Homo sapiens: one gene and its partner. The protein of the gene in region 1 purifies or fractionates together with the protein of each later gene. This does not show direct contact. Each region holds a gene or a part of one and is shown on either strand. Other genes may lie near its edges. The genes, in order: TTC9B and CLTCL1.

Region 1 (4,418 bases):
GCCTTACCTGCATAAGATAATTCAGTCTCTGCAACCGCTCTGAGGTTAACTTGCCTTCTATCCTCATGTCGCACAGACGAAGCCGAAGGAGGAGGATCGAGGAACTTGGCCCAGGTCCCACAGCTAAGGAGGCGGCAAAGGAGGACTGAAGGGCAGTTGACTCATTCATCCTCGATTTTTTTCTTGAAAGCCTCCTGCATGCTTCCTTTCCTGGGGACTTGTTTGCCCTCTCACTTGTTTTCCCCCATAGACAGCCGAGCTGGATGAGGGCAAGAAGGAGATCTCTCTTGTTTTTAGAGTTATTCCCTCCTCCAGGAAGACTTTATCACCACCTCAGCCCAGGGCAGGTACCTCCCACATCCCAGCCCCGACCCCTCTGCCTGTGCCTCTTCCACCTCGGCCCCGACCCCTCTGCCTGTGCTTCCCAGGCTAGCCTGCTCAGGGCTGTCACTGTCTGGTCACTGGTCTGTCTTCCCACTGAACTGGGGCCCAGTGAGAGTAGGGTCTGAAGCTCACGCAGTGTCTGCTATGTCCCAGCATCATCCAGCACAGAGCTGGGCACAGAAAGGATGTCAGTGAATATTTGTTTCATAAATTAACAGATGAATCCCAAAGGTGGTATTATTTTTAATTCCTTTCCTTTCCTTTTTTCTCTTTCCTCTTTCCCCTTTCCCCTTTCCTTTCCTTTCCTTTCCTTTCCTTTCCTTTCCTTTCCTTTCCTTTCCTTTCCTTTCCTTTCCTTTTTTGAGACGGCATCTCCCTCTGTCACCCAGGCTGGAGTGCAGTGGCACAATCTCGGCTCACTGCAACCTCTGCCTCCCAGGTTCAAGTGATTCTCCTGCCTCAGTCTCCCGAGTAGCTGGGACTACAGGTGCACGCCACCACACCAGGCTAATTTTTGTGTATATATACAAAAATTTTGTATATATTGTATATTAGTAGAGACGGAGTTTTGCCATATTGGCCAGGCTGGTCTCAAACTTCTGACCTCAAGCGATCCATCCACCTCGACCTCCCAAAGTGCTGGGATTACAGGCGTGAGCCACCTCGACTGGCCCTAAAGGTGATATTATTGTGCCATGTTACTGATGAGGATACAGAGTTCCAGGTAGTTTAAGCGAGCTGTCTAAGTCATACCACTAGTGAGAAAGTAAGCAGGGATTTGAATTTGGGAAGCTTGGGTCCAAATCCTGTGTTCTCATTCGATATGCCAAATGGCCAGTGGGCTGAGAGCCAGCTTTCCGTGAGGCTGATGTCTTCCTGCTCTTTCCCCCAGGCTCGTCCTTTCCTTCTAGAAATCTTCGGGAGCTTTGGGCACCGGGGAGGAGAGCAGGCAGGAGGTTGGGGAGGGTAAGGGGAATGGGAACAATTCGGGGGGCGGGCTGGAGAACTAGGACTTGGTTAATTTGAGAGTGAGCATGGGGGAAGTCTCGAGGGGTTTCCCTAGACCCATAGGGGGCAGCCGGAGTCGGCTGCCGGAGGTGAGGGGGCGGAGAAAGGGTGGGGACCAGCCCCGCGGGGGGCGATGCGGTAGCTGCAGCGGCGGCGGCAGGAGTTTCCCACAATGCAGCGCGGCGCGCTGTCCCCGGTGCTGATGCTCAGCGCTGCCCCGGAGCCTCCGCCGCGCCCGCCTCCCGCCCTCTCCCCACCGGGCTCGGGCCCAGGCTCGGGCTCCCGCCATGGCTCGGCTCGTCCCGGTCCTACCCCAGAGCCGTCGGGGAGCCTGGGCGCGGCGCTCGACAGCAGCCTGCGTGCCGCCGTGGCGTTCAAGGCAGAGGGCCAGCGCTGCTATCGAGAGAAGAAGTTCCGGGAGGCCATCGGCAAGTACCACCGAGCGCTGCTGCAGCTGAAGGCGGCGCAGGGGGCCCGCCCTAGCGGCCTGCCCGCCCCCGCCCCCGGGCCCACCAGCAGCCCCGGGCCGGCGCGCCTCAGCGAGGAGCAGCGGCGCCTGGTGGAGAGCACGGAGGTGGAGTGTTACGACTCCCTCACGGGTACGCCGTCGGGGGGTGGGGGGATGGGGCACGAGGGGAGGGGGCAATCGGGAGAGCTTGGCGACTTGGGGGCCAGGGGCCCTGGGGCTGAAGGGTCCAGGGCTGTGGGCTTCTGGGGGAGCCTTCAGAGCTTGATCAAGGAAAGGGATTAGGGGTAGGGGATGACAGGGGTCTGTGGCTGGAGGGAGCTGGGATGCAGGAAATGGTCTTTGGGTCGGGTATTCAGGGCCTCGCTTCCCCTGAGTCATTCTTTCCACCCCCTGGCCGCACGTGGACCCAAGGTGAGGAAGTCTGCCCTGAGCCAGGCTCTCGAGGTCCCGGCCCTCGCCCCCGCGCGGGGCCTTAGTGCTCTTGCCCACCGACAGCTCTGGGTGGATCGCCCAGTGGCGCCTGTCCGTGTTTTGGCGCCCCCTAGCAGCGGCGCAGTTGCGCCTGTTTCGATAGGCGAGCGGATTGGCGCCCCTGGTTGCCGGAGCAATCCCTTAGGCCTGGTTCCCTGCCGCCTGGAGCCTCGGCTCCTCGCAGTCAGGTGGGTTCTGGGGGTGCCAGCAGGCTCTGAGAGTGCCGGCCGCGGGGCCCTCGCAGCTTGCCTGCTGCAGTCGGAGCTGGTAAACTACGAGCGCGTGCGCGAGTACTGTCTCAAGGTACTGGAGAAGCAGCAGGGCAACTTCAAGGCCACCTACCGTGCCGGCATTGCCTTCTACCACCTGGGCGACTACGCACGCGCGCTGCGCTACCTGCAGGAGGCCCGCAGCCGGGAACCCACAGGTGAGTGGCGGGGCGGGGCAGAGGTGAGGGCTGGGCCCAGGGCGGGGAAAGGGGCTGCAGCGGAGGGAACAGGCAGGAAGATCAGGGCAGAATAGCAGAGCCCTCCTCCCGCGGAGCTGCTTCTAGGTAGGGCTGCGCCACCCACCTACTCCCTACACGCCCACTCATCCATTCATCCACCCCGCCCTTCACCCGCCATTCAAACATCCGTCCACCTATCGCTCCTCTGACATCTCCCCGGCCATTTCTCATCTACCGTCATTGCCACATCTGATATCTCCTATTCACCTGCTCAGTCACTTCCCTATCCACCCACTGTCATCTCCATTACCCCGTCCCACCCCTGCCTACCGCACACACTCATTCCTCCACTCACCCATTCACGCACACCTATTCATTCACTTCCTGCACCATCCACTCATCCACTCGGGTGGACGATGCCAGGAAATTGGGGTGTGTGTGTGTGTGCGTGCATGTGTGCACTTACACACATGAGTGCAGGAGGGCAGACACAACACTCAGTTTTGTATTAAGAGCCAATGAAGAAGGAAGAGGGATTACAACAGGTGCAGGGTTGTGGGAGCCGAGACGAGATTAGTTTTCCTGTTAAGTGGCTCGGAGAGAACAGACTTCTTGCAGATGTCGCTGGAGGATGAGAAGTGTGACGGGAGCCTCTGCGAAGAGGCATTCCTGGCAGAGGGTGCCGCAAATACAGGCGCACAGAGGTGTGCGATGGCTCCGCTGTGACTGGGGACTGCCGACTGTGACTGGGGCTTTGGGGAAGGGCTCTGGCTCTACTGGCTGTGTGAGCGAGCTGCTGGATACTTCGGAGAATGGGGTGTGAGCCAGGGAGGTGTGGAAGTCACCTGCTGCCCCGGGACACCCAGATGATGCCCTGCCCACCTCCCCTGCAGACACCAATGTGCTCCGCTACATCCAGCTGACTCAGCTGAAGATGAATCGTTGCAGCCTCCAGCGGGAAGACAGTGGGGCTGGGTCCCAGACTCGGGATGTAATTGGCTGAGGCCAATCCAGGGGGACCTCTCTATCCCTCGCCCTCCCACCTCACCATGTAACTTCCCCCGACTCATGTGTTTGTTGGTAAAACACTTGTCACTGGTGATCATAACTTGTGTGGTGTTCTTGGGGGGACCAGGGAGGGCCTCATCCCTTGGACCTTAGAAACCCAGAGAAGCCCAGGGAGGGTGTGTGGGGTCGGGGGGAATGTTCCACTGGGATGACCCAGCATCAGGGCCTGGGCCAGGGAAAGAAACAGTCTAGGCCAGGCGCAGTGGCTCACGCCTGTAATCCCAGCATTTTGGGAGGCCGAGATGGGTGGATCACTTGAGGTCAGGAGTTTGAGAGCAGCCTGGTCGACATGGTGAAACCCTGTCTCTACCAAAAATACAAAAATTATCTGGGTGTGGTGGCGGGAGCCTGTAGTCCCAGCTACTCATGAGGCTGAGGCAGAAGAATCACTTGAACCCAGGAGGCGGAGGTTGCAGTGAGCTGAGATGGTGCCACTGCACTCCAGCCTGGGCAACAGAGCAAGACTCTGTCTCCAAAAAAAAAAAAAAAAAAAAAAGGAAAAAGGAACACAATCAAGTGCGGTAGGGGGCAGGGGTTACCTTTAATGCTCCATTTTGTGCCAAATCCCCC
Region 2 (3,806 bases), on another chromosome or scaffold:
TAACAAAGAGTTCTCTCTTGGTGACACATCCTAAAGTGTTTAAGGATAAAACAAGATGTCTGGAATTGGCCTCAATAAAATTTGGCAGTGATCGGAGACGTAAGTAAATCAAAGCTGGCCACGTATTGGTAAGCAATCATTCTTGGTCTTGTCTACCTATCTGGATTTTCCGGCTTTAGCAGGATAGGACTGGATGCTCTCCAGACAGAGCAGTGCACTGAAGTGGGCCTGGGTTTTCTAAATTGTCCTTTTGTTCTCAGTTTGGGGATCGATGTTGGGTTAATACGGTGACATTCTGATTTCAACTCCAAATACCAAGAATTGGTAATCCTGAATAATTTGTATCCAATCTCTTGAGCATAGTGGGTTCTTAAATAATAGTAGCTGAGTCAAGTTCCTTATCTAAGAGCATACATACACATGTATGGCATTTGAAAAAGGTAAAAGTCCCTCACAAATAAGACAGTGTTTTAACAACTGAGAAGAGTGGATCCAAAAATAAGATAAAGACTATTAGAATCAGATTAAATTAAGACAGTAGTTCTCAACCAGGAGTGCTATTCTGCATTCTTCAGAAATGGGAAAGGGGCGGCCGGGCACGGTGGCTCACGCCTATAATCCTAGCACTTTGGGAGGTCGAGGTGGGCAGATCATAAGGTCAAGAGATGGAGACCATCCTGGCCAATATGGTGAAACCCCGTCTCTACTAAAAACACAAAAATTAGCCAGGCATGGTGGCGTGCACCTGTAGTCTCAGCTACTCGGGAGGCTGAGGCAGGAGAATTGCTTCAACCCAGGAGGCGGAGGCTGCAGTGAGCCAAGATCGCGCCACTGCACTCCAGCCTGGCGACAGAGCCAAGACTCCGTCTCAAAAAAAAAAAAAGAAATAGGCAATGGGTTCGGGCGCAGTGGGTCACGCTTGTAATCCCAGCACTTTGGGAGGCCAAGACGGGTGGATCACTTGAGATCAGGAGTTCAAGACCAGCCTGGCCAACATGGTGAAACCCCGTCTCCACTAAAAATACAAAAATTAGCTAGGCCTGGTGGCATGTGCCTGTAATCCCAGCTACTCAGGAGGCCGAGGCAGGAGAACCCAGGAGGTGGAGGCTGCAGCAAGCCAGGATCACTCCACTGCACTCCAGCCTGGGCGACAGAGCGAGACTCTGTCTCAAAAAAAAAAAAAGAAAAAGAAAAAGAAAAAAAGAAATGGGCAAGGGTAGTTTTAATAGTACAATGAGTGGGGAACTCATTCTCTACTCATTTAGCCAGGAATGCTCAATACAGGACAATCCCACAAAAATAACTTTTCCATCTAAGATGCCAGATACTACTGTGAGTTTTTCTCCATACGCAGGAACTAAGTCCCAGAAAAGTGATGTGCTGAAAAGCCAGGTTTTTTCTTTCTTTCTTTCCTTTTTTTTTTTTTTTTAGACAGAGTCTTACTCTGTCACCCAGGCTGGAGTGCAGTGGTGGCACCATCTCGGCTCATTGCAACCTCTGCCTCCCCAGTTCAAGTGATTCTCCAGCCTCAGCCTCCCAAGTAGCTGGGACTACAAGTGCCCACTACCACGCCTGGCTAATTTTCATATTTTCAGTAGAGACGGGGTTTCACCACATTGGCCAGACTGGTCTCAAACTCCTGACTTCAAGTGATCCACCCGCCTCGGCCTCCCAAAGTGCTGGGATTATAGGCGTGAGCCACAGGGCCTGGCCCAGGTTTGTTTTTTTTTTCACTAGTTAGTAGAAATAACCAAGGATTCCTGATCCCTAGTATATTATTCTGATAGGTAACCTAGCTACACATTTTTAAAAAAATTTTCTTTCTTTTTTTCTTTCTTTTGAGACAGAGTCTTGCTCTGTCGCCAAGGCTGGAGTGCAGTGGTGCAATCTTGGCTTACTGCAAAGTCTGCCTCCCACACTCAACCGATTCTCATGCCTCAGCCTCCCAAGTAGCTGGGAATACAGGTGTCCGCCACTGCACCTGGCTAATTTTTGTATTTTTAGTAGAGACAGGGTTTTGCCATGTTGGCCAGGCTGGTCTTGAACTCCTGGTCTCAAGTGATCCACTTTCCTCGGCCTCCCAAAGTGCTGAGATTACAGGCATGCACCACTGCACTGGACCTTAGCTACACATTTTAAATGGCATATATAAGATTTAACTAAAGAAAGGTAAAGAAGATGCTGTCTAATGATCCTTTTCAGTTCTCAAAGCCTGCAATTAAATCAATCAAAATTCAAATCTGACAATGGGGGCCAGACATGGTGGCTCATGCCTGTAATCCCAGCACTTTGGGAGGCCGAGGCGGGTAGATCACTGGAGGTCAGGAATTCGAGACCAGCCTGGTCAACATGGTGAAGCCCTGTCTCTAGTAAAAATAAAAAACTTAGCTGAGCATGGTGGCACACGCCTGTGGTCCCAGCTACTCAGGAGGCTGAGGAACAAGAATCGCTTGAAACCAGGAGGCAGAGGCTGGAATGAGCCAAGATTGTGCCACTGCACTCCAGCCTGGGTGACAGAGACAGACCCTGTCTCAAAAAAAAAAAAAAAAAAAAATCTGACACTGGGGAATATGCAAAAAGAAATTACTCATCTGATAGTCCTGTGGTTTCTATGTATAAGGGGCTTAAGGAAGATGTCTGCCTGGGAGGACTACAACTGTGTTTGTACAAGAGTATTAGTGAGAACATCAACTGCCTACATCAGTGAAGCCAGAATGCTTAAGTTGCACTGAACATCCCCATGTTTTCACACCTATGTGGACACCAATATTTTTTCTTTCTGTATCTGTCTCCTTCCCAGTCTCACTCACTGCTTTATCCTTGTGCCTAGCATATGGATGGTAAACAAATAGTAAAACAAATTACTTGTTTCAGGGCAGTAAAATTTAGTTCATCTACAGTTTTTAAAACATACTTTGAGGGCCTGGCGTGGCTGCTCACGCCTGTAATACCAGCACTTTGGGAGGCCGAGGCGGGTGGATCACCTGAGGTCAGGAGTTGGAGACCAGCCTGGCCAACATAATGAAACCCCATCTCTATAAAAATACAAAAATCAGCTGGGTGTGGTGGCGGGCACCTATAATCCCAGCTACCTGGGAGGCTGAAACAGGAGAATCACTTGAACACGGGAAGCGGAGGCTGCAGTGAGCCAAGACCACGCCATTGCATTCCAGCCTGGGCAACAAGAGTGAAACTCTGTTTCAAAAAAATAAATGGGCTGGGTGCAGTGGCTCACACCTGTAATCCCAGCACTTTGGGAGGCTGAGGTGGGCGGATCACGAGGTCAAGAGATTAAGACCATCCTGGCCAACATGGTGAAACCCCATCTCTACTAAAAATACAAAAATTAGCCAGGCATGGTGGCACGCACCTGTAGTCCGAGCTACTCAGGAGGCTGAAGCCAGGAGAATCGCTTGAACCGGGGAGGCAGAGGCTGCAGTGAGCTGAGATCATGCCACTGCACTCCAGCCTGGTGGACAGAGCGAGACTCTGTCTCAAGAAAATAAAATAAAAAACACATTTTATATTTGAAACACGCTGGGCGCGGTGGCTCACGCCTGTAATCCCAGCACTTTGGGAGGCCGAGGCAGGCGGATCACAAGGTCAGGAGATCGAGACCATCCTTGCTAACACGGTGAAACCCTGTCTCTACTAAAAATATAAAAAATTAGCTGGACGTGGTGGTGGGTGCCTGTAGTCCCAGCTACTCGGGAGGCTGAGGCAGGAGAATGGCGTGAACCCTGGAGGCAGAGGTTGCAGTGAGCCGAGATTGTGCCACTGCACTCCAGCCTGGGCAACAGAACAAG

What was found.
Region 2: the proteins of TTC9B (region 1) and CLTCL1 purify together in Homo sapiens (affinity purification with mass spectrometry; 2 studies listed by BioGRID and IntAct, with this or other methods). This does not show direct contact.

What each region holds. Positions count from the first base shown.
Region 1 is NC_000019.10:40,215,528-40,219,945, reverse strand, and holds TTC9B (tetratricopeptide repeat protein 9B), read left to right. Parts: upstream 1-1,561; 5' UTR 1,562-1,564; coding exon 1,565-1,991; intron 1,992-2,576; coding exon 2,577-2,759; intron 2,760-3,370; coding exon of another isoform or gene 3,371-3,603; exon of another isoform or gene 3,604-3,673; coding exon 3,674-3,783; 3' UTR 3,784-3,888; downstream 3,889-4,418.
Region 2 is NC_000022.11:19,281,459-19,285,264, forward strand, and holds part of CLTCL1 (clathrin heavy chain 2), read right to left. Parts: intron 1-3,806. UniProt on the Homo sapiens protein: Clathrin is the major protein of the polyhedral coat of coated pits and vesicles. Two different adapter protein complexes link the clathrin lattice either to the plasma membrane or to the trans-Golgi network.